Linked DNA regions of Homo sapiens. The protein of the gene in region 3 purifies or fractionates together with the protein of the main gene of each other region. This does not show direct contact. Each region holds a gene or a part of one and is shown on either strand. Other genes may lie near its edges. The genes, in order: IPO13, ITIH2, HS3ST4, INTS7, DCP1B, CLTCL1 and ATP12A.

What was found.
Region 1: the proteins of HS3ST4 (region 3) and IPO13 purify together in Homo sapiens (affinity purification with mass spectrometry; one large-scale study listed by BioGRID and IntAct). This does not show direct contact.
Region 2: the proteins of HS3ST4 (region 3) and ITIH2 purify together in Homo sapiens (affinity purification with mass spectrometry; one large-scale study listed by BioGRID and IntAct). This does not show direct contact.
Region 4: the proteins of HS3ST4 (region 3) and INTS7 purify together in Homo sapiens (affinity purification with mass spectrometry; one large-scale study listed by BioGRID and IntAct). This does not show direct contact.
Region 5: the proteins of HS3ST4 (region 3) and DCP1B purify together in Homo sapiens (affinity purification with mass spectrometry; one large-scale study listed by BioGRID and IntAct). This does not show direct contact.
Region 6: the proteins of HS3ST4 (region 3) and CLTCL1 purify together in Homo sapiens (affinity purification with mass spectrometry; one large-scale study listed by BioGRID and IntAct). This does not show direct contact.
Region 7: the proteins of HS3ST4 (region 3) and ATP12A purify together in Homo sapiens (affinity purification with mass spectrometry; one large-scale study listed by BioGRID and IntAct). This does not show direct contact.

What each region holds. Positions count from the first base shown.
Region 1 is NC_000001.11:43,960,450-43,963,949, reverse strand, and holds part of IPO13 (importin-13), read right to left. Parts: intron 3,075-3,500; coding exon 2,937-3,074; intron 2,785-2,936; coding exon 2,688-2,784; intron 1-2,687. UniProt on the Homo sapiens protein: Functions in nuclear protein import as nuclear transport receptor. Serves as receptor for nuclear localization signals (NLS) in cargo substrates.
Region 2 is NC_000010.11:7,723,816-7,727,315, reverse strand, and holds part of ITIH2 (inter-alpha-trypsin inhibitor heavy chain H2 precursor), read right to left. Parts: intron 367-3,500; coding exon 198-366; intron 1-197. UniProt on the Homo sapiens protein: May act as a carrier of hyaluronan in serum or as a binding protein between hyaluronan and other matrix protein, including those on cell surfaces in tissues to regulate the localization, synthesis and degradation of hyaluronan which are essential to cells undergoing biological processes.
Region 3 is NC_000016.10:25,690,734-25,694,758, reverse strand, and holds the start of HS3ST4 (heparan sulfate glucosamine 3-O-sulfotransferase 4), read right to left. Parts: upstream 2,801-4,025; 5' UTR 2,342-2,800; coding exon 1,608-2,341; intron 1-1,607.
Region 4 is NC_000001.11:212,004,558-212,008,057, forward strand, and holds part of INTS7 (integrator complex subunit 7), read right to left. Parts: intron 2,893-3,500; coding exon 2,693-2,892; intron 2,205-2,692; coding exon 2,082-2,204; intron 1-2,081. UniProt on the Homo sapiens protein: Component of the integrator complex, a multiprotein complex that terminates RNA polymerase II (Pol II) transcription in the promoter-proximal region of genes.
Region 5 is NC_000012.12:1,997,958-2,001,457, forward strand, and holds part of DCP1B (mRNA-decapping enzyme 1B), read right to left. Parts: intron 19-3,500; coding exon 1-18. UniProt on the Homo sapiens protein: May play a role in the degradation of mRNAs, both in normal mRNA turnover and in nonsense-mediated mRNA decay. May remove the 7-methyl guanine cap structure from mRNA molecules, yielding a 5'-phosphorylated mRNA fragment and 7m-GDP.
Region 6 is NC_000022.11:19,281,720-19,285,219, reverse strand, and holds part of CLTCL1 (clathrin heavy chain 2), read left to right. Parts: intron 1-3,500. UniProt on the Homo sapiens protein: Clathrin is the major protein of the polyhedral coat of coated pits and vesicles. Two different adapter protein complexes link the clathrin lattice either to the plasma membrane or to the trans-Golgi network.
Region 7 is NC_000013.11:24,683,408-24,686,907, forward strand, and holds part of ATP12A (potassium-transporting ATPase alpha chain 2), read left to right. Parts: intron 1-1,906; coding exon 1,907-1,966; intron 1,967-3,500. UniProt on the Homo sapiens protein: The catalytic subunit of a H(+)/K(+) ATPase and/or Na(+)/K(+) ATPase pump which transports K(+) ions in exchange for Na(+) and/or H(+) ions across the apical membrane of epithelial cells.

The DNA.
Region 1 (3,500 bases), on a different chromosome or scaffold from region 3:
ACCACACTTACTGTGGCCTCTGGCAGGTTGGGGTAGCCCTACACTGCTCCTAGCACATACCTCCCATCAGCCAGTCATTGAAGAGGAAAGCTGGGATGGCGGTGGGGGGGTGGGGGAGTCAGTCCTTGGTATCTCCTTTTGAGGTTTATCTGAGGGCCCTAGAAAGGCCAGGGCATCAGAGCCTGAGTAAGTGCCACCTCACTTCAATGGCCTTAGGGCTCTTGGTCTGGCAAAGGAAAATAATCTATTCAGTCCACTTAAACCACAGGACTCTTGCTTAGGTAGGGCAGTGCCCAGCATGCTCTGGAGATGGCCTGGCAAGTCACTGGCAGGGCCCAGAGGAGGAAACAGTATCATAAGGCCAAAAACAAGAGCCCCACCCCAGCAAACCTCCTCCACATGGACATGGACTCTGCAGAGAGCCAAGCTCAGGGCTGAGGACTAGTTCCCATCATCTGGACATGCCAAGAAACAGGGAAACAAGAAACATGTCATCCTATGGTCCAGTGGGAAGGCAGAGCCCGAGGAAGGAATGGCTAAGATTGGGATGGCATAACAGGTATGGGAGCCATCCTGTCCAGCGAGACAACCAACAAGCCCAACGTATATGATGTTGGACACTGCTGCCTCCAGTTCTGATCATTCCTGAGGCAAGAATATGGCATGCACCTGGAGCTCCTACCCAGGCTTCTCCACTCTCAGGAGGATGTGGTACAAAACCATCTGCCTAAGACACCACTAAGTAGCTGTGTGATCTTGCGCAAGCCACAAATGCTCAGTTTCCCCATCTGTAAAGCAGATAATCTCTGCCCTGCTTCCTTCTCTAGGCTATGAAGAGTCACCAATAAAGTCTGTCCCTTTGGTATCTGAACCCTGAGTTATTTAAGTCCTAGAAAGTGAGGCCCAGTGTGCACCATGCAGGTTTGATATTCAGCAGCCACCCTGCTAGAGGTGGGCCAGAAAATGAGAAGGAAAGGTTCCAAGGGCAGGGAGCCCTCCCCCTCCTTTATTTAACAGTGTCTGTGGCCTGCTGTATTCTGGCCTCATTCTGGGCACTGGGGATGCAGAGAGAAGAAACTCAACCCTACCCTTGAGGGGCTTAAGTCTAGTAAGAGAGACAGACATGAAAGCTGATTATTGTGTGTGATCAGTGCTGTGTCAGCAGTGTGTATGGGATGCAGTTTCAGTACAGTTAGAAGCACCCAATTCTGCCTCAGAGAGAAATTACTCTGAGAAGTGATGCAGTCTTCCTCCTTTCTAAGGCATGAAGGAGTGAGAGTTCACCCAGTAAAGGGCATAGGACATTCCAGTCAGAGGAGCAAGGCACAGGGATCAAATGGGACACGGTAAGGAAGAGGCAGTGTGGCTGAAATGTTGGAGTCATGAGGACATTGGCAGGAGAGGACATTAGAGGCATGCCAGAGCCTTGTCATGTGGGTGGGAATGGAACAATAAGCTGAGGGCAATGGGAACAATGAAAGGGTTTTAAGCCCGGGATGACAAATGCTCAGATTTGTGTTTTTATGAAGATTATAGCTGCAGTGTGCAGAACAGATTGGAGAGAAGGGGAGATGCCAAGAAAACCCACTAGAAGGTTGCTGATAATCCAGGTGAGACCCTAAACTGAGGCAGTGGCCACGGAGGTGGGTAGAAGTGGACCAACCGAGAGAGAATCAGGAGTCAGGATCAATGGGGCTTGTCCCAGATTGGGTACAGGGAGTTGGGAGAGGTGGAGTTGAGGATGACCACACCAGGTTTCTGGTTCAGTTTTCTCCCCAGTTTGGACCTACTCCATGGCCCACAGAAACAGAGGCCAGGATCATGAGACCAGGCACTGAGGATATGAGCTGCGAGTACTCTGGGCACCAACCGAGACCCCTGGTGAGCCTCAAACCTGTGACCATGAATCCAGGCAAGGCTCATGAGGCTAGCTGAGCAGTGCTGTTTTTTTGTTTTTGTTTCTCCAAACTGGAAGCCTGGATTAGACAACACGAGAAGCCTGAATGAAGCCCCTGCTGCCAACTCTCTCAGGCAAAGGGCCACAGTGAGTAGAGGGCTAGGACCACAGCCAAAGGTACTTGACTTCTGGCCTAGAAAGTACTAAGCCTTGATGCAGGGAAAGGAACCAACAGTCTCTGAGTACTTCACTGTGCAAAAGCCCCTGAGCCAAGGGCCCAGAAGATGTGACTTTAATACCTGTAAACAATCATTTCAAGTATATGTTATCTCCGTTTCACAGATATGGAAATGAAGGCCCAGCAAAGGTAAGTGACTTGCCCAAGGACACACAACTAGTTGGTGGTGATGAACTTAGAATCTAGGTCTAGCTGACTTCAAAAGCCCGTGCTCTTTCCACTTTTCATTATATCCCAAAGTAAAGGAGCCAGCCTAGTGCCCCAAGCCCCTCAGAGCCTCTGCCCACCTCCCACCCCCACTTCCTTCTTCCATATCCAGACTGGCCCTGAGCCCAGCAGGCCAGCAGAAGACATCATTCACCCTCTTATCCACTTCAACCTAAAGTTTCAACTATTTATAAGGTGTTGTGCTTGATCTCACAGGTTTCCCATCAAGTCCCACGTGTGACTCAGGGGACAGAGAAGAACAGAGTGGGCAGCTTTGGCTCCCCATTTGGGGAAGCAGAGGCAGTGGCAGTGGCAGCAGCAGCAGAGACCCCGGTCAGGACCTACCTTGCTGGAAGAGAGTGAGTGTGACGGAGGTGACGAGCAGGAAGAGGGCCTCAATTGGGGGAAAGTGGGCAGGCTCATGAGCAAAGATGTGGACCAGCTACGAGAAAGCAGGGAATGCTGGTCAGCTGAGACCCAGTCTCACCAGGACATGGCAATATCCCTGGAATGCAAGTGGGGACCCCAGCCACGGCAGCCATCTGACCCACCCCCACCCAGGGTCAGGATCTCTGCCCCAACCAGAAGGCCCACCTGTCGAGTGAGGTCAAGAGCAGAGGCCTGGGGGATGGTGCTGTACATCCGACCCAGCATCTCACACAGCTGTGGCACCATGGGGGCAAAGTCATCCAGCAGCGTCTTAACAGACTTCTCAAAGATAGCGCACACCGCCTTGGGAAGAAAGCAAAGGGGCCCTGGTCAGCAGGTCATGACTGGCTGGAACAGCGCTGAAGCCCTGCACAGAGGGGGCCTACGATTGGGCCCTTACCTATAAGCCTTGCCTGGCCCTGCAAACCAAGGAAGGTAAGCAAGTCTGACCCTCACCCTGAAAGGCAGGGGGCAAAGGCCCTTCACTGAGGGGCACAGGATGTAACTGTGGAACTTAACTCCTGCGACTTACATCTCTAACATTTCCTCTCAGGGAGCAGCAACAGCAACAAAAACCTGAATTGAAAAGGGACCAAAGGCAGGTCTTTGGTGCTAAAACAGATGCCTGACTGTCACTCGACCCTAATATTAGAGTCCTTACGTTAAGCACTTCTCATGATATTGGGGAGTTCTAAATGTCTTCCCAAAAGATTCCTTATCTCTATGGGG
Region 2 (3,500 bases), on a different chromosome or scaffold from region 3:
AAAGCTTATGTGGGCTGTATTACAAATTCTACTTTCACTACAAACTTAGCATTCATCCATTACCAATAAATGTATTATTTAAGATAGGCCCTCGAATGCTGGGGAAAGACCACTGTGATGGGAATAATGCTTCTTAAGTGAATCATGATTTGAACCCAGAGGAAGTGTCTCCTTGGGATTTAGCCCAACACACTCACCTCCACTGGGCTGGATTTTCTCAATATACCTCTTGGCATCTGCAACCTGTGTTTTTGTAGCTGAAATTAAATCATTTCTCCAAGTTCGAATGTTCTGGTTGAAATCAATCACAGAGAAATGGTCTTCTGCTCTGAGGTCATCCAATATGGTCTTCATTGCTTCCACAGTCTATTTCAATAGAGAATAAAGACAGGTCCCATTACAGAAAATCTGAGCCTCAGAGGAACTAGGAAGACCAATCATTGATCCTGGTCATCTTTCAAGTTCTTCTCAAGCTAAACTTCTTCCAGAAAACCTCTTGAGCCCACCTCAGTCAATGCAGACCTGCCCCTTATTTATTCTGGGCATGTACTGTTGGCTTTTTGATAATTTTACTATCTATTTTGCTATGCACAACCAGTTTGACTAGTCTTTATGTTAAGGATCACAAACTTCGAGTGCCACCTTTATGATGCCTGAAAATAAAATACATTTCTCAAGTCCATCTACTCACCCAGTCTCTTAAACTATTTCCTCATCTTTCTCTTTAAACCACCACCATCACCCTCTTTCTCTAGCTTACGTGTGATGATTTTGATTCCAACTCCACTGAGAAACTGCAGCAGACAGAAGAACATTCCCACAGACTCCCACTACCATAAAATCCCAACCATCAATATTTGTACCCATACATTTTTCTTTCCTACCTGATAATAAAGAACAACTAGCAGTATTTCTACCTAATGCAAACCCATCTATTCATGAACTATTTCATTCCCTCTCTTTGACTAAAGATCATGGCTCCAGCAATTGTCCTTTGCCTCTTCAATTTCCCTATTCTATTGGTACATTTCCATCAACAAAAACATGTTATTTCTCACCCTTCTACAAACCTCATGTGCATCCACTTTCTTCATTTCTCAGCTTTCTTCTGCAATAAAATTCCTTGAGGAATTGTCTAAACACACTGTCTCCAAATCTTCTCTTCCTATTCTCTCATAAGCCCAATCCTTTCGGGTTTTCATCCCTGTCACTCTACTGAAACTGCCCTTGTCAAGGTCACCAATGATGCTAATGTCACTAAATCCAAAGGTCCATCTTCATTTCTCATGCACCGGCAAGTGCTCTCATCTCCCTCCTGAACACAAATTCCTCAATTGTCTTCCAGGGCCTCATTCTCTCTTGATTTTTCTCCCCCACTTACTAATTGTTTTTATTAGTCTCTATCACCAATTATCCTCTTCTTCCCAAATTCCCAATATTGGAATGCTCTGTTGTCTGATCTTGGCTCCCTTGTCCATCTACTCCTCGGCATTCTCACCTAGTCCCAATGCTGACAGTACCTTCTATATGCTGGGGAGTCCTAACTGTGTGTCTCCACATCTCACTTTTGAACACCACGCTTCCATGGCCAACGTGGGTACTTAATAGAAATCTCAGACTTTGCATCCAAAACCAAACTGGGACATTCCCTGCAATGTCTGATTACATTTCTGTCTTTGTCAACTCATGGATGGCCACTTCATCCTTCTAGTCACTCAGGCTAAGTCCTGGGGCATCTTTCACTTCTCTTTTCTTCCCTTGCCTCACAGCTAGCCCTTCAGGATATACTGTTTACTCTACCTTCAAAACAGATTCCAGAATCCAGCTCTGATCATGACTGCACAGGTGTTCCATGAGCCACCTTGCCTCTCACTTCTCAGATCTCATCTCCCACTGCCCCTCTCTACTGGCATCTCTCTCTGTTCTTTGCACACTTTCGACTTAGAACTGTTGCATGAGCTGTTCATTGCATTTAATTCCCTTAGATATCTGCACAACTCTCCCTTCACCTTCTCAGGGTCTCCTCAGAGGTCTTCTCCAGGAAACCACCTATTTAGATGACAAGCCTATTTAAAATTGCATACCCCTGCAATTGCCACTCTTGGTTTTTAACATATGCTTCTTTTATTTTTTAAAAAAACTTTTATCAAAATGCTGCCATTGAACGTACTTGTACATTTGTACTTGCATGTGTATTGTTTATTCTCTGTCCCCTATCCCTCAGATGTAAGTTTCATAAGCACACAGAGGGTAGGCATCCGTTTTTTTTCTGTTTTTTGTTTGGTTTCTGTTTTTATGCTTTGGGTCTGTTTTGCTCATAGATGAACTAAGTGTATGACACATAGTAGGTGCTTCGTAAATATTTGTTAAATGAATGAGTGATGGAAGGAAGGAAGCAGTGAATAAACTGTTGTATTAGAGCAATGTTTCTCAACCAGAGGCAATTATTCCCCCCAGCGGACATTTGGCAATGTCTGACGTTATATTTGATTGTTATGATGCAGGGGAGGTTGTGCTACCAAAATTTAGCAAATAGACCATAGACCATGCTGCTAAGTATCCTGCAATGCACCAGACAGCCCTCCTACAACAAGGAATGACCCCATCCAAAATATCAATAGTCCCACTGCTGAGAAACCCTGCCTGGGAGTACAGACCCAGGCAGGCAGGGTCTGTGAAAGACAGGGTCTTCTTTTTCCTCTTCTTCGTCTTCGTCTTCTTCCTCTTCTTTTTTTTTTTTTTTTTGAGATGGAGTTTCGCTCTTGTTGCCCAGGCTGGAGTGCAATGGCGCGATCTCTGCTCGCTGCAACTCCCGCTTCCTGGGTTCAAGCAATTCTCCTGCCTCAGCCTCCCGAGTAGCTGGGATTACAGGCATGCACCACCACGCCTGGCTAATTTTGTATTTTTAGTAGAGACAGGGTTTCTCCATGTTGGTCAGGCTGGTCTCAAACTCCCAACCTCAGGTGATCCACCTGCCTTGGCCTCCCAAAGTACTGGGATTACAGGCGTGAGCCACTGTGCCTGGCTGACAGGGACTTCTTTTAGGTTCCTTACAGATCTTAGGGTAGTAGTGAACTCTTGGGTGGTCAAAAATAGTTGCCCTATGACTGGTTAGTTGGTTGTTCAACTTGGTTGAATGGATGGATGGATTGATGGGTAAGTTAAATCATTTCCTTGTTTGGTCTTTAGTATTGCATCTGTACATCTCACTTATCACTAAGTAAGCCTATATTGAGCTCTGAGCTGGAAAACATAAGATGGATAGCTGCTCTCAAGCAATTACCATATAATTAGAAATAATATGTATATATTGAATCAATAGTCATATGTGGACAATGACAAGATATTATAATAAAACATGTGGAAGAGCAAAAAGAATGTGACTGATCCTTGAAAGAAGAGGTTATATAGAGATTCTGTTTTTCAAAGAGGTGAGTTTTGAGACAGTTTTTCAAGGAAATATTGGATAGAGAGTGGAAAAGAGAAAGAGAAGGAAGAGG
Region 3 (4,025 bases):
CCTCATAAGGCCAAAGCTACTCCACAGAAGAAACCAGAACATTCCTACAACCAGCAATTAAACAACTAAAACCTTCCCAGACATCGTGCCCCTTCTTTATTTTGCTGTTGCTGCATTAATCATCCTAACACCTTTTTAATTATAATCACAAACTGGAAGCCATGGCTTCTGATGTTATAAATACTGATTTTCCAGTTAAATTAGGCATTTGCTGTTTTATGTTTTGATAGGAAGGGGCTGTTTGAAGCCTCCTAAAATACTGCAATTAGTTCTCTCTGTTGAAACAGACAAGACGTTAACAGACACATTTGCTGCTTCCCTGTAATGTGCTGGAATGTTTATGACTAAGTGTACTTCTCTCAAGCTTTTAAAGCATAAGGCATATTTTTAAAAGTGGAAGAAATCAATCATAATGCACACATTTATTATGTATTTCTTCAGTTAAGTTATTTCTAAAACTTTCCCAGGCTGTAATTTAAACCTAGAAAGCACATCTCCTCAACGGGCAGGCAACCTGTCAGAGAAACAATCTTGATTTTACCTATTGGCTCTGCTAAGATGATAACATCACTTCAGCTGACAAAGGCTGTGTTTCTGTTTGACATTTGCAATTAATTACCGAAATGCAATGGAGATGCAGCCAGCCATGCAGATCTGTTTCCCAGAAAGATATAAAACAGGAGGAAAGAGAGAAAGAGAAACAACAAAGGCGAAGGAGGTTTGCGTTTGGGGCATCTGCACCAGTGCCGTTTAAAATGTTATGGCTGGCAGGAAAGCTGGATTATTAATTTATTTTACCTGCACTTAACTTTCTAGTCCTCTCTCCTACCTTTCTCTCACCACCGGCAGACGGTGGGAAAGGAGGGAGATGAACATCTCACAAGACAGAAGCTCCAATCTGTTGCGAAGGAGGCGGAGATTAGACAGGGCACGGTCTGAGGCATAAAAACTCTCAGGGCACCAACTGTCATGCAGACATTGAGGCTTCTGGTGCAAAATCAACTCCGTGCTCATTCAGCCAAGGGGGATGGAAAGTTACGGAGGTGGGAGGCATCCTTTCTTTACTAGAAAGCCAAAACGCCAGCATGATCTTTGTAACTGTTCCCTATTCATTTTGCTCTGACCTTAACACACTAAAGTTGAATTCCAGCCACGCAAATGCGTTTGAGGGTGATTTTAAGAGATTCCAGGGGACCTCAAATCCCCTTAGTCAATTTAGCCATCCTGTCTCACTCCTCAAAGTCCTCTGCCCAGAATCCCAGAACCCCGCAAGAGCCTGGTTTCGGAAACACCCAGCAGGCAGGAGGGCTGGGGGTTCCCAGGCTTGGAGCTGGGCAGATTCAGACAGCACCTCCTTGGATGAGGAGCGCGGGAGGCAGGGCAGGGTGACACCTCCTCCCCTCGCCCTGAAATAAAGTGACCTTTCGCTGGAGTCCAGCCCTCTCAGCCGATCCCCCTGAGCAACGCCGCCAGGGTTTGCAGAGCCCTCGCGGGGGCTTGGGCCTCTCGGGACGGTGCCTGGATGCTCGAAGGGCGTGGAAAGCCGCGGCTTCCCCTCCGCGTCTCCCCCACGCGTCTCCACCAGCCCGCGGAGCCCAGGGTCCTACCTGTACCACTCCAACCCCTTTTCGTAGTTCCTGTCGAAGAAGTGCGGCTCTACGCCCACCGCCCGCACGTCCGGGTGCACGCGGATCGCCTCCAGCAGCGCGCGGGTCCCTCCTTTCTTGACCCCGATGATGAGCGCCTGTGGCAGCTTCTTCTCCCCATAGTCGGGGGTGCTGACGGCGCCGCCCCTCTCGCTGCTCCCGTTGGCCGCTCTCCGGCCTGCGAGATCCTCGTCGGTGGTGCTGGACTCCTGCGCTTCCCTCTCCGGCAGCGCGCTCTGAGCCGTGATCATCTCGCTGGGGGCCAGCGGGGTCCGGAGCCAGGCGTCCTGGGCGCCTCCGCCGCCGCTCGGCAGCCCCCAGCCGTCGGTCCCGGGGGCGGCTGGCTGCTCTGGGGGCTCGGGCGGCTCCCCGTGGCTCGCGTTGTCCAGCGGCGGCGGCGCGGGCGGCTGCGAGGGGGCGCCGAGGCGCACGGGGGTAGGCAGCAGAGAGGGTGGCGGCGGGCTCGGCGGGGGCTCGGCGGCGGCGCCCGGCGACTCCTGCAGCGCCAGAGGGAATTGCAGGGAGCCCGAGCCGCCCAGGAGGCTGTAGCACAGGTAGGTGACAGACAGGGACAAGGTGCACATAAAAAGCAGCTTGCGCGCCGGCGGCCCCTTAGCAGAGGCGCCGGGCGGCGGCGGCGCGGCCAGAGGTGGAGGCGGAGGCGGAGGCGGAGGAGGTGCGGGCCACCGGGCCATCGCGGCTCCCGGCTCGCGGCGGCGGCGGCGGCGGCGGCAGCCCCCGGCGCTGCCCGGACATGGTTTCAGCCGCCGCCCCCGCCGCCGCCGCCGCCGCCGCCGCCGCCGCCGCTGCCCAGCCGCCCCGGCTGCATGAAGCGACGCCGCTGCGCCCCCGGCCCTGGCCGCTGTCCCGCTGCGCCAGGGGGGAGCCCGGCCGCATGGCCCCCCGCCCCACGCTGCCCGCCGAGTCCGGGTGGCCCCCCCACCACCGCCCCCCCCTCAGCCTCAGGCAAGGGGACCGAGGGGGGCGCGCGGACCCGCCGGCGGCACCTGCTCCGTCTGCAGCGCCCCCGCTTCCCCGGCTCCGCCGCGGCTTCTGCTTCAGCCTCTGCCGCCGCCGCCGCGCGCTGTTGCAGCCCGGAGTTCCTTCCCCGCTGCTAACTTTCTGCCGGGAGAGAGGAGAGGCGCGGAGGGGAGGAGGAGGGGGCCGGGCGCGCGCCCGGCGCCGCCGAGGGAAGGGGGGTGCGCCTCGCGCGCGCCTGCGAAGGGGGCGGGGGAGCGGAGGCGTGCGCTAGGGCTGGGGCACCCGGGAGAACGGAGATCGTGCCCCCCAGCCCCCAGCACGCACGCACTTGGGGTGTTCCCCACCCCACCTCGTTTACTCCCCTCCCTTGGGAGCTCGGGACGCCGTGTTCTCCATTCCTTTGCCCCAGTACTTTTAGAGAGGTAAAGCCCAACGCCTGCCTCCGGTGCCGCGCACCGGGAGCTGGAAGACAGCGGGTGACGAAGCTCTCGCTTCCGCTTTTCCTCTGGGACTCCAACTCAGCCCATCCCCGACCCTCCCTTCTCTCGCCCGGGATATCCTCCTGCCTTCGGTCCAGGAGTGAATCCTTTTCTACAACCGCTTTCCCATCCCAACTTCCATCTTTCCAGCCACCGCCCCCCGCCCCCCATCTTCTCTTGAAGCTCCTGATGGGTGGAGCTTTGACACAAGCCCCCAGGTTTCCCAGCCCCAGAGCTTTTCCCTCTGTCCCATCACCAGGTGACAACACTTTCTGCTTCAAGAGATGAGGCTGCCCCTCCTCGACACCCTTAATCACAGGTGCACACACCTGCGCCTCTTCGGGGGCATTGCCACTAACGGAGTTCATGGTTTCCTGGACTGAAATAGTGTGGGACCACTGTCGCTCTGAACACCTAATAAGCGGAGACAAGCTGGGTTGCTGGGTGTCTGTGCATCGGCTCGCTGAAATTTTTTAAGTGTATTTTCTTTGCAGAGAGATCTCCACCCCTCACCTCCCTCTCCTGGGGGAACATGGTAAACATCAGAAGGCTTTGGAAGATTCACAACTAGACTTTGCTTCCTGTTGCATTTTGCTCAGGGAAGTGAGGGAAATGGGAGAAAGAGACAGAGTGATCAACTGAGGCACTCCAACAAACTCAGCTTTCTGCAACCGGGGCTGGCTCTGCACAGAGCTCTGCCAGGTGCCTCCTGGGGGTGGCTCTAGTGAGTACCATTTGCCCCCCAGCCACAGCTGGGTGCCTGACGGGGCTGCTTTTCCCTTGTTGGCTGCTGTGGCTGGCATCTCTGGTTTTGTTTGATCACGTAATAGGAAAACCAGTTGAAAGAAAATGTATATAATGTCTAAATATTAACGAGATACCTAGTGCCAAAGAGAAAAAAAATGTTAATCAAATAAGA
Region 4 (3,500 bases), on a different chromosome or scaffold from region 3:
ATGCACTGGAAGACAATATTATAAAGTTACCAATTTCTTACAAACTAATCTTTATATTCAGTGTAATCCCAATCAAACTGTTAAATTTGACAAGCTGATTCTGAAATTTATATAGAATTGTCAAGGACTAACAAAGTATGAGTATTCCAAATATATAAAAAATAACTATGAATCAACAGAAAAATAGGCAAGAGACCTGAATAGCCATGTCATAAGAGAAAATCCAAATGGTCAATAAACATATTAAAAAGGTGTTCAATTTCTTTAATAATCAAGGAGCTACACATAAAAAGTACAACTTCTAAACTGGTAAAAAACGTAAGTCTGATAATTCTATGTGTTGGTACGGATGTGATTAATGGACGCCCTCATACACAGCAGGAATGTAAACTGGTTCATTGACTTTGGAAAACAGTTTGACATCATCTGTTAAAACTGAAGATACGCATTTTCTGTAAGTCAGAAATTTCATTCCCAGGTATACACTCTAAAGAAATTTGCGTGTGTGAACTGGGAGACAAACAGAAGAATGTTCTGCACTGTTTGCAATAGGCCCATGCGGAAATAACCCATCGAGAGCAAATAAACTGTGATACATTCATACAATGGGATAGTACATTACAATTAAAGGGGAAAGACATGGATGAGTCTCACCAGTGTAATGCTGAGCAAAAGAAACAAAAACAAAGCTAAACAGTATTCTTTAGGAAGACATGTGAAGAAGGTAAAAGAAGAGCAAAGAAATTATTATCATGAAAGTCAAAATGGTGGTTTGCTTTTGGAAGGTGTAAAGTTTCAACCAGGAAGGACCACGCAAGGGAAGGAGGCAGGGTTCTGTGATCCTGTAATGTTCTATTTCTAGCTGGATGGTAGTTGCATGGGTTTTCACTTAAAAGTATTTAAAATATTTATACATTTTACATACTTTTCTCACTTAAAGGTATTTAAACTATTTATATATTTTACATACTTTTCTGTATGTATGATCTATCTCACAATAAGAAAAAAATGAGAAGGAATAATACTGTGCTTCTCACTCATCTTTCTAAATAACTGGGTTTGGTTCTTTGTACAAATTCTCTAAAATGACTAAAGTGGCTGGGCACATTCTCTTCTTGGAAAGATAGCATTATTTAGTAGAAAAAGCAATAAGACTAGGGATCAGAGGACAGAAGCTCTCTTAATTAAATTCTTAATTTACTTCTCTTAAGATGCTCTCTTAAGCATATTAAGTCTCTCTGAACCCTAACTGCTTATCTATTAAATGCAGATTTAACAACTGCCCTTATCTTGGGATATCTGTGACTATCAAATCATAATATAGTAAATTAAAAGATGTTTAGAAAACAACAAACAAACAAACAGAAAAACAAACACAGCAGTTTAGTTTTAATAATCTGAAATTCAAAGATTTTTAATCCACTGGAGTCATGATGAAGCTGAGAGATAAAAACTACCGTTCCATTTTAAATAGCATTATTTGCAAAATGGTGTTATTTCTATCGGTAATGGGTAAACAAACAGGGTTCTATTTTGAGAAAAAAATAAACATAAAATATTAATTTAACCTAACAGATGGTAAGAGATGGTGTCAAAGATGCACATTAAAAGTCTAAAGAGTGAGATCTGCTCTTCTGTTTACAAAAGAAGACTTAGGAATGTCTTCAGCTCTCCAGGAAGAGAGAAATATATTTCCCAAGTTGCCCATCCAGCCCTACCTCCATTACAGATAACATTCAGCCCCTAAATTTTTCTCCCCAAATTGACTGAAAAATACAAGAATAAAAAAACCAAACCAATGTAATTGGGCTTCTCAATTAGCCTTAGTGCCACTATGGGAGAATGAACAAGCAACTGAGTGGCAAGTTTCACTGACTAAAACAAACATTGAAGTATAGAAGTTTTATGTATTTATTGTGCCACTTATAAAATAACTGCCACAAACATCAACAATGCTTTTAGAAGTTTTTCATATTCAACCACTTAGAAGATGACAAAGACAATATAAAAATGCAAAACATTTTACTATATTATAATGTTATATTATTTTTTCTATATAAAATGTTACAAGTTCTACATACCTGAATATTCTCCCTACTCCAAGTATGTGGTGTTTTATTAGCAAGTAATTTCAGATCTTGAATAGCAAGTCTCTTTACTGCCTTCCTGGGATCATTCTTCAAATACTGCAACAGAAGCTGAATCTATAAAGGAAATAAGTCACTCCATAAACAATACTGTAACTGAAATGATCATTAGAAATGCAGTGTAGTTTAGTGAAACTTATAAAGGGACAGGACTCACTTCAAATCAGAGCCCTGTCACTCACTAGCTATGTGCCCACATTTGGGCCTCTTTCTCCATGTTTGTAAAATACTACCATTTAACTTTAAAGTTTTAGCACAGGCCCTGGCATTTTACAGATACTCAATCCTTTCTTTTTTTTTTTTTATACGGCCAACTTCACACCCAGCCATGTACTCCATAACATCTCATTTTCCTCAAGGGCTCCCAACAATCAGTACTGTGAACAGAGAGAATAAAAAAGCAAGCAAAAGCAAATTAATCTGACCTTTATTAGAGAAAAGAACCTTAATGTCCTCAAGACTTGTGGGCCACTTTCTTATTTCTAATCATATATTTAATATGTAAGTTTACCAAAGATAGGCAGTTTAAAGAAAATTGAAATTACCTGCTTAGGTGTATCAACCAAAGATGACGCTGCAAGCAGAGTGAAAGTGTGCAAAGACACAATCACCATTTTGGTGGACGGATAGGATGTGACCAGCTGTTGTAAAAGCTGACGAGCACTGGAAGCCAAGATTGCATCATGGTGCATGTGCTGTAGAATGGGTATCAATTTTAGCTTCAAGTCTACTGGTGTCGCTAAACCTAGACACAAAAATAATTCTCAAGGTATTTGTGATCACCATCCTTAATAATATTCCAGATTTAAAAGCTGTGACTCATTTAGCAAAATTGCACTTGAAAAACACAGTATACTAATATATTTATAACATTAAAGATTATACTAGAACCAATTGATAAATTCAATATTTTTTCCTAAGTATTTATCTTGACATTAACTTTTCAATGATTATAAAACTACATGCTGATAATAAAAACTGCCTTTAAAAAGCACAGTAGAAAGCAAAGTCATATTTGCTGCCTATTTCCTCTCATTGTCATAGTAAAAAAATTATACATACACATATACATATATATACACAAACACACACACTTGATGGCTACAGTCTGATTATACTTATGATTTTAATTATTTCCTTCAACAACTAAATCATAATCAGGATGTGAATAAACTGTGTGTAGAATGGTTTCGAAGTCCTCTGAACTTTGTGTAGTAAATGCCTTTCTTTATTGCATACACGACTGGATCCATGAAGACTAACCCTAATCCACGTTTTCCTGTCAACAGTGGAGCGAAACCAACAAATCTTTTCTCTATGGCATGGCTTTGTGGTCATGGTGAACACAAATTT
Region 5 (3,500 bases), on a different chromosome or scaffold from region 3:
TTCCACATCAGTTTTCTCCTAAACAATAAAAACAAAACACACAAGACATGTATGTTCTCTTCAATTCACAAAGGTATAAAACAAATTCTCATAGAATAGGAATTATATATAACTTCAATGGGCCAAATATACCCAACATGAGGAGTTATTCTCAGGAAAAGGAGAAAGCAAGTTCTATGTCATCATTGTGCCTCTGCAGATTAGGCAGCAGGAAGCAGTCTTTCTTTTGTCATTTATAAAACAAATCATCATTATCTCTCTTTACCAAATACAGGGATAGCAGCATACCCTTAGCTGAAACAATGAGAAAATAAGTGTGCTATGCGGATTTAATTAGAAAGAAGAGTGCTGCCTTTTTCTCCTTCCACCACACTGGGTATAGAGAAAGCTGCAGACATCACTGGTGTCTGCATTTCACTATCCTTCATTTTGTTTTCTGGGTTCATTTTCTCCTGCCATATCCAGTGACTTAGGAGAGCAGATGATCTGTCAATAACTTTACTTTGACTGCTAGACAGAGAGGGCAATGATGCCACAGAGTTCTCAGATGAATCAATCACCTACTTAGTGTAGTATATTTACAGTCAAGGTCTGACCCGAGATCACTGAAGTAAAGTTACACAAGTATTACCAAGTTAGGACTCAAGAAATCTGCCTGAGAAAATCTGGGAGAGGTGGTAAAGTTAAAATGATGGTTTAACTAGGTCACTTCACATTTCTTTTCCATTTCTCCAAAGGCAGGAAGCTAGGCCATTATAATATTCATCCATATAATGCATACTAAAAAACACACATGTAAGTATCCAGGTGTTTGACTAACCACGAACCAGACCTACTGTAATTCAGAATTTAAAATGTACTTTTGCAATTTACATGGTTTAATTTCAGCATTCTATTTAAACCCCTGATATTTTATTATTAATATTCATCACCATAATCATTCAAAATTTAAGTACTCTGTAATTCTGGTGAAAAATACGCCCTTTTAAAAAAAGCGTAATGTCAAAACAGCAGTTTTTAAAAGGCACACAAGGCATGATCCTTTCACATGCTCAGGCAATTTCAGCAAATTTCTCATTCACTTTAGTTCAGTGGGTCTCAAAGTGTTATCCCCAGATCAGCGGCATCAGCGTCACCTGGGAACTTATTAGAAATGCAAGCTCTTGGGCTCCTGCCCAAACCTACTGAATCAGAAACTCTGGGGATGGTGCTCAGCAATCTGGGTTTTATTAAACTGTCCAGGTGATTCTGATGTATGCTAGTTTGAGAGCCACTCACTGCCTTAGTTCAACAACATACTCTCTGCCCATGAAATTATATTACAAGTCCTGAAAACAAAATCCATTATGGCACAAATCATATCAAGCTATTATCAAGAGTAAATGGCTATAAAAAATCATTACCTAGTAACAAAATATTTAATCTCAAGATGTTTATTATTATGGAATATGAAATTATAAATAAAGAATTTAGACCAGGCACAGTGGCTCATGTCTGTAATCCCAGCACTCTGGGAGGCTGAGGCAGGCAGGAGGATCGCTTGTGGCCAGGAGTTCAGTTTGAGACCAGCCTGGGCAACATAGTGAGACCTTGCCTCTACAAAACAAAAATTTTTTTAATTAGCCAGGTGTGGTGGCACATGCCGGTAGTCTCAGCTACTCAGGAGGCTGAGGAGGGAGGATTGCTTCAGCCCAGGAGTTTGAGGCTACAGTGAGCTATGATTGTACCTCTGCATTCCAGCCTGGGCAACAGAGGGAGACCCTGTTTCTTATAAATAAATAAATAAATAACAATTAAAACAACTTTAGCCAGTTTTTTCCCTAACATAAAAGCATAGGTAAGTCAGGGAGTTCATCCTTAAACTAGATTCACTATGAAGTTTGTATAAATCACCACAACATACTGTGAAACATATCCTTATTTCTGAAATGTGGCTCGTTTGCCCCTGTACTTTGAAAAATATCCAAGTCAAAATGAAAAAATATATATACAGAAACATTACTTATCTTTCTTTGAAAACAAACATGGTTAATTCCTATCTGCTGACAAATGTATATCCTGAGTGTACCTGAAGCACTAAGAATTACTTACACCCAAACCACCAAAGTATTAATCAGGAAAATGGCCCCTACAGTACAGTAAATGCTACCTGAACAGTATACAAATTTTTGGCTGTCCCTAAAGTTTAACTGATTCAGTCAGCAAGTATTCACAAGTCCACAAAGCATTTAAAAATAAATTTGTAGAAAGTATTTGGTATTATCCATTACATTGTTAGGAAACTGAGCCAAGATACAGGTGATAGAACTAGGACTTTGCAGAACCTCTATGTAGTCAGGATCACTCCCCACAAGATCAAAACACTCTCCTGGTCTTCCAGTATCTGACCTTGGACTGTTTCATCTTAGAGATCTGAATAAGGATATCTATATATATCAGCACACATAAAACTAAATAGCTTCTGACTTGTTTCCTTTCTTCCTTGATGTAACAGAAATTCTCTTTTCTTAATTAAAAAAAAAAAACCTTTAATGCCACATTTTAGTTTTTAAATTCCAAGGTCAAAAATGTAAAAGGCATGCTTCTCCTAAAATTAATCTCTAACTTATAACAAGTAATTCTTAAAACTAAGATTTTTATTTAGCATTACACACAAAGAATATGAGTTTGTTCATAGGAAGGAGTTGTGTTTCAGTAATCACAACCTGGGACCTGTAGTGGGGTTCTTGCCAGATCATGCTGGGCTAATTAGTTTATTATTATATGTCTCAGTTTCTCCATTGAAAAGAGATAACCAGGCCGGGCACAGGGGCTCACGCCTGTAACCCCAGCACTTTGGGAGGCCGAGGCGGGTGGATCACCTGAGGTCAGGAGTTCAAGACCAGCCTGGCCAACATGGTGAAACCCCGTCTCTACTAAAAATGCAAAAATTAGCCAGGAGTGGTGGCAGGCGCCTGTAATCCTGGATACTCTGGAGGCTGAGGCAGGAGAATAGCTTGAACCCAGGAGGCAGAGGTTGCAGTGAGCCATGGTCACGCCATTGCACTCCAGCCTGGGGAACAAGAGCGAGACTTCGTCTCAAAAAAAAAAAAAAAAGAGAGATAATCAGCTTACACTACTCAGATCTTTTGATGAAAAAACGTCAGGCGCTCTATGACACCTGGATAAAAGAGACTTTGAAAATATACATTTCTGTTCTATTACAGCTGCCCAAATTCACGCATTTTCCTGGCCCCTCCATAGTTATCCAAGGGCAACCAGATTTTTTTTTTCTTTCTGAGCAAAGTCCAGGGTTAGGGATGTGGAGAATAGCTAAAACAAGATTAGATGTTCCTTAGATCCTTTAAGGAGGACTTTTATGTGAAAGTATTAGTTACCAGTCCTGGGGTATTTTAGCTTAAATTTTAAAAGTACAATTTGAGGATTTAATATTATACTGTATTATAAAATCTAACAAGTGCTAAAGAAATAAGCAATTCAGAATTCAAAATACTAAAAAA
Region 6 (3,500 bases), on a different chromosome or scaffold from region 3:
CACTGCAACCTCTGCCTCCAGGGTTCACGCCATTCTCCTGCCTCAGCCTCCCGAGTAGCTGGGACTACAGGCACCCACCACCACGTCCAGCTAATTTTTTATATTTTTAGTAGAGACAGGGTTTCACCGTGTTAGCAAGGATGGTCTCGATCTCCTGACCTTGTGATCCGCCTGCCTCGGCCTCCCAAAGTGCTGGGATTACAGGCGTGAGCCACCGCGCCCAGCGTGTTTCAAATATAAAATGTGTTTTTTATTTTATTTTCTTGAGACAGAGTCTCGCTCTGTCCACCAGGCTGGAGTGCAGTGGCATGATCTCAGCTCACTGCAGCCTCTGCCTCCCCGGTTCAAGCGATTCTCCTGGCTTCAGCCTCCTGAGTAGCTCGGACTACAGGTGCGTGCCACCATGCCTGGCTAATTTTTGTATTTTTAGTAGAGATGGGGTTTCACCATGTTGGCCAGGATGGTCTTAATCTCTTGACCTCGTGATCCGCCCACCTCAGCCTCCCAAAGTGCTGGGATTACAGGTGTGAGCCACTGCACCCAGCCCATTTATTTTTTTGAAACAGAGTTTCACTCTTGTTGCCCAGGCTGGAATGCAATGGCGTGGTCTTGGCTCACTGCAGCCTCCGCTTCCCGTGTTCAAGTGATTCTCCTGTTTCAGCCTCCCAGGTAGCTGGGATTATAGGTGCCCGCCACCACACCCAGCTGATTTTTGTATTTTTATAGAGATGGGGTTTCATTATGTTGGCCAGGCTGGTCTCCAACTCCTGACCTCAGGTGATCCACCCGCCTCGGCCTCCCAAAGTGCTGGTATTACAGGCGTGAGCAGCCACGCCAGGCCCTCAAAGTATGTTTTAAAAACTGTAGATGAACTAAATTTTACTGCCCTGAAACAAGTAATTTGTTTTACTATTTGTTTACCATCCATATGCTAGGCACAAGGATAAAGCAGTGAGTGAGACTGGGAAGGAGACAGATACAGAAAGAAAAAATATTGGTGTCCACATAGGTGTGAAAACATGGGGATGTTCAGTGCAACTTAAGCATTCTGGCTTCACTGATGTAGGCAGTTGATGTTCTCACTAATACTCTTGTACAAACACAGTTGTAGTCCTCCCAGGCAGACATCTTCCTTAAGCCCCTTATACATAGAAACCACAGGACTATCAGATGAGTAATTTCTTTTTGCATATTCCCCAGTGTCAGATTTTTTTTTTTTTTTTTTTTTGAGACAGGGTCTGTCTCTGTCACCCAGGCTGGAGTGCAGTGGCACAATCTTGGCTCATTCCAGCCTCTGCCTCCTGGTTTCAAGCGATTCTTGTTCCTCAGCCTCCTGAGTAGCTGGGACCACAGGCGTGTGCCACCATGCTCAGCTAAGTTTTTTATTTTTACTAGAGACAGGGCTTCACCATGTTGACCAGGCTGGTCTCGAATTCCTGACCTCCAGTGATCTACCCGCCTCGGCCTCCCAAAGTGCTGGGATTACAGGCATGAGCCACCATGTCTGGCCCCCATTGTCAGATTTGAATTTTGATTGATTTAATTGCAGGCTTTGAGAACTGAAAAGGATCATTAGACAGCATCTTCTTTACCTTTCTTTAGTTAAATCTTATATATGCCATTTAAAATGTGTAGCTAAGGTCCAGTGCAGTGGTGCATGCCTGTAATCTCAGCACTTTGGGAGGCCGAGGAAAGTGGATCACTTGAGACCAGGAGTTCAAGACCAGCCTGGCCAACATGGCAAAACCCTGTCTCTACTAAAAATACAAAAATTAGCCAGGTGCAGTGGCGGACACCTGTATTCCCAGCTACTTGGGAGGCTGAGGCATGAGAATCGGTTGAGTGTGGGAGGCAGACTTTGCAGTAAGCCAAGATTGCACCACTGCACTCCAGCCTTGGCGACAGAGCAAGACTCTGTCTCAAAAGAAAGAAAAAAAGAAAGAAAATTTTTTTAAAAATGTGTAGCTAGGTTACCTATCAGAATAATATACTAGGGATCAGGAATCCTTGGTTATTTCTACTAACTAGTGAAAAAAAAAACAAACCTGGGCCAGGCCCTGTGGCTCACGCCTATAATCCCAGCACTTTGGGAGGCCGAGGCGGGTGGATCACTTGAAGTCAGGAGTTTGAGACCAGTCTGGCCAATGTGGTGAAACCCCGTCTCTACTGAAAATATGAAAATTAGCCAGGCGTGGTAGTGGGCACTTGTAGTCCCAGCTACTTGGGAGGCTGAGGCTGGAGAATCACTTGAACTGGGGAGGCAGAGGTTGCAATGAGCCGAGATGGTGCCACCACTGCACTCCAGCCTGGGTGACAGAGTAAGACTCTGTCTAAAAAAAAAAAAAAAAGGAAAGAAAGAAAGAAAAAACCTGGCTTTTCAGCACATCACTTTTCTGGGACTTAGTTCCTGCGTATGGAGAAAAACTCACAGTAGTATCTGGCATCTTAGATGGAAAAGTTATTTTTGTGGGATTGTCCTGTATTGAGCATTCCTGGCTAAATGAGTAGAGAATGAGTTCCCCACTCATTGTACTATTAAAACTACCCTTGCCCATTTCTTTTTTTCTTTTTCTTTTTCTTTTTTTTTTTTTGAGACAGAGTCTCGCTCTGTCGCCCAGGCTGGAGTGCAGTGGAGTGATCCTGGCTTGCTGCAGCCTCCACCTCCTGGGTTCTCCTGCCTCGGCCTCCTGAGTAGCTGGGATTACAGGCACATGCCACCAGGCCTAGCTAATTTTTGTATTTTTAGTGGAGACGGGGTTTCACCATGTTGGCCAGGCTGGTCTTGAACTCCTGATCTCAAGTGATCCACCCGTCTTGGCCTCCCAAAGTGCTGGGATTACAAGCGTGACCCACTGCGCCCGAACCCATTGCCTATTTCTTTTTTTTTTTTTGAGACGGAGTCTTGGCTCTGTCGCCAGGCTGGAGTGCAGTGGCGCGATCTTGGCTCACTGCAGCCTCCGCCTCCTGGGTTGAAGCAATTCTCCTGCCTCAGCCTCCCGAGTAGCTGAGACTACAGGTGCACGCCACCATGCCTGGCTAATTTTTGTGTTTTTAGTAGAGACGGGGTTTCACCATATTGGCCAGGATGGTCTCCATCTCTTGACCTTATGATCTGCCCACCTCGACCTCCCAAAGTGCTAGGATTATAGGCGTGAGCCACCGTGCCCGGCCGCCCCTTTCCCATTTCTGAAGAATGCAGAATAGCACTCCTGGTTGAGAACTACTGTCTTAATTTAATCTGATTCTAATAGTCTTTATCTTATTTTTGGATCCACTCTTCTCAGTTGTTAAAACACTGTCTTATTTGTGAGGGACTTTTACCTTTTTCAAATGCCATACATGTGTATGTATGCTCTTAGATAAGGAACTTGACTCAGCTACTATTATTTAAGAACCCACTATGCTCAAGAGATTGGATACAAATTATTCAGGATTACCAATTCTTGGTATTTGGAGTTGAAATCAGAATGTCACCGTATTAACCCAACATCGATCCCCAA
Region 7 (3,500 bases), on a different chromosome or scaffold from region 3:
CTGAGGGGAGTCTCTTTTGTGCTAGAGAGCCATTTGTTAAGTATTCAGAAACTTGGCAGGCTGACTGACATCCTGTTAGCAGCTTCAAACTTGGTTCTAGTGAGAAATCAGCAAACTCTACAAATCCGAGCTTTGTATTGATCGTTCCTGGAGAGTTTGTTAAACATTTAACAGTATACCACTGGGCATTTGTCCGTATCTATCATGAGAGACATTTAAGAACGCTTCCCTGAAACTGGACTGACCTCAATTCAAATCCCAGTGTAACTGAAGTTCAGTTTCCTATTTTGAAAAACATAAGATTTTTTTTTCTACCTCTTAAGGGTTACTAGGAAGATTAAATGAGATAAAACAGGGAAAAGACAGCACAGCACCAGACGATAGATCGTTCTTATTATTTCCCATTATCTCTAGCATTTAAGATTGAAGACATATCTGTTTTTCCCTTGACATTACAAGGGTCCTGTAATTTTCAGCAGCATATTGAATGCTTTTGCCTCCCAACCTTTCTTGGCAAATTAGTGCCTAATGACAACTGAAGTATCCCGGCCTTTGAATGAAAGGGCCAGGCAGTGACCCGAGGGGTGGGTGGGGTGCTGCCCTGTGCTAGTCCAGTGCTGGCCAGCAGAGGGCACCCCAGATAACCACCACCACCTCGTCCCACCCCTCCCCCATGCTCTCATCCCCCAGCCCAGGAAGTCTGAGGTCCCATGCATGCAAACAATGGCTCGGATCATCCACTACTTGTATCTGCCCAAAACTTAGTGGGTTGTGCTGTGCTCTGTGCAGAACACAGCCTTAATCTTCTGAATCCCCAGCAATATCACACTCAATCAGTATTAGTAGAAGGGATGAAGGAGCAAAACAGAATCTGGCTGAGAAGAGGGCTAGAAGCAAGATAATAATGATAATAATGAATTCTGCTTTATTGGAAGGCCTAGTCTCTTACTGCAACATGGAACTATTTTTTGCATATACTTAAGAAAAGAGATGATGTGAGCACCAGTCAACAGTATCAATCTTTGTTTCAGACAATCAGGGTTTAAAAAATCCTGAGTGCTGGACTTTCTAGGGGGAGTGAGGAAGACTTACCCTAGGTTTTCTGCTACAGGAAGAGACTTCTTGTCCTTTAGCCCAGTGGTTCTCAAAGGGAGAGGAGAAGAGGATTCCCCCACCCCTCTCCCAGGGGAAAAATGGAAACATTTTTGGTTACCACAACTGAGGGGAGGATGTTAGTGGGTGGAGCCCACAACAAAGAATTATTCTCCCAGAATGGCAGCAGGGCCACGGGTGAGAAACCCTGCTGTAGTCTAATGATTCTGTAGCAGAATTCACAAGTGGCAGCCACAATGCTGTGGGTTTATTCAGCAGAACTTTTCCCTGCAGGGTTTCTCTGCCCAGTGAGCTCCCTGAGCGTCACAGCTTGAGTGAGGGAAGCTGCTTTTCCCTGCCAGAGCCCACACAGCGAAGGAGGAGGAGTTGTGCCAGCCCAGGAAGCGGTTCTAGTGTGGTTTTGCCATCAGCCCCAGCCAATCCCAGGGTTCAGGCCTGAGGGAAGCCTCCAGCTCACTGGCACCTGGAAGATGAGGGTGCCAGAACCTGTATGCCCTGGAGTTCAGATTGAAGCGAGGTGCATGGCTTTGTTCAGAAAAGCTGCAGGCAGCTTCTGGGTAGTAACAGCAAGTGCAGGATTGTGCCGACTCAGGGACAGTCACTCCTGAGGCAGTGCCATCCTTCGCTGGGCAGCTGCCTGGCACAGGGGTTCTTTCTCTCCTGTCCCCCACACTCCTCGATCCCCTCCCATCCTCAGGGCTGCTACTCCCAGCTTCCATGGCTGGTCAAAGCTTGGGGCTTGAGTCTTTTGGAATTATCTAATTCACTCTGTTCTTCCTTTCATGGACTTCAGGATGACCACAAACTCAGCAATAGGGAATTGGAAGAGAAATATGGCACAGACATCATTATGGTGAGTCGTGGGAACCAGGGATTTGGAAGAGAAGCCTCCCAACTCTACAGAGGGAAGGCTGTGTGTGGCGGGGGGCTGTGTGGAAGAGTAGCGGCACCTTTAGGAGGAGGGGCCCCTGCAGCGCCTTTGAGACTGCAGTTATTTGCATCTGGACACAGTTCAAGTCAACAGAAAAACCTACTGTGGGGCTCACACTGGCCTGGCAGTGAGAGGGACCAAGAGGGACAGATGACCCCTGGCCTCAAGGAGAAAGTGGCCGGGTAGGGGAGGCAAATGTGTATGGAAGTGTCCTGAGATTCACTCTATCCCCCTGGGATGGCTACAAGAAGTAGAAACGCTATGCTGGGACAAAGGTGGATTCTGATGGAAGGGGCCAGAGCCAGCTCTCGGGCTGCTGCCATGTTTGCGCTGGGACTCAAAATGCTTCGGATTTAAGCTGGTGGGGGACCCCAGGGCCAGTAAGCACAGAGCCTGCTTGGAGAGAATCTGGGCTTGCCGGAAGCTAGTATGTGTGGAGAGGGGACAGGTGCAGCAGGAATGAAGCCAGGAAGGTCATCTGGGTGAAGCTGTCAAAGTATTCACATTAAACTAATGAGTAGGAGCTGTCTTAGAGGCAGAAGGGACATGGTTTCCACACATGGAGGTGCTTTCATTGGTTTTCAAAAGGCAGTTCTCATAGAAGATTCTTTTTTTAAAGTGAGAAATGGAAGGGTCTAGAAGAATGGAACAACAGCCCAGGACTGTGAAATGAGGATCTGAAATAATGTCGAAAGACATTACAGGGGCCAGACGTGGTGGCTCAGGCCTGTAATCCCAGCACTTTGGGAGACTGAGGTGGGCAGATCACCTGAGGTCGGGAGTTTGAGACCAGCCTGACCAACATAGTGAAACCCCGTTTCTACTAAAAATACAAACAATTGGCAGGGCGTGGTGGCACATGCCTGTAATCTCAGCTACTCAGGAGGCTGAGGCAGGAGAATCTCTGAAACCCAGGAGGCAGAGGTTGCGGTGAGCCAAGATCATGCCATTGCACTCCAGCCTGGGCAACAAGAGCAAAACTCCATCTCAAAAAAAAAAAAAAAAAGGGCCGGGCGTGGTGGCTCACGCCTGTAATCCCAGCACTTTAGGAGGCCAAGACGGGCGGATCACGAGGTCAGGAGATCGAGACCATCCTGGCTAACACGGTGAAACCCCGTCTCTACTAAAAATACAAAAATTAGTCGGGCACGGTGGCGGGCGCCTGTAGTCCCAGCTACTCGGGAGGCTGAGGCAGGAGAATGGCGTGAACCTGGGAGGCGGAGCTTGCAGTGAGCGGAGATCGCGCCACTGCCCTCCAGCCTGGGCGACAGAGCGAGACTCTGTCGAAAGAAAAGAAGGAAAGAAAGAAAGAAGGAAGGAAGGAAGGAAAGAAAGAAAGAAATTGCAGAGAGACACAACCAGCAGGACTTGCGGGGATTTTTATTGAGCCCCTCATCTCGCTAGTCATGTCACAGCAGCAGGAGGAGGAGAGCCGGTCGGGTGATGGGCTGGGGTG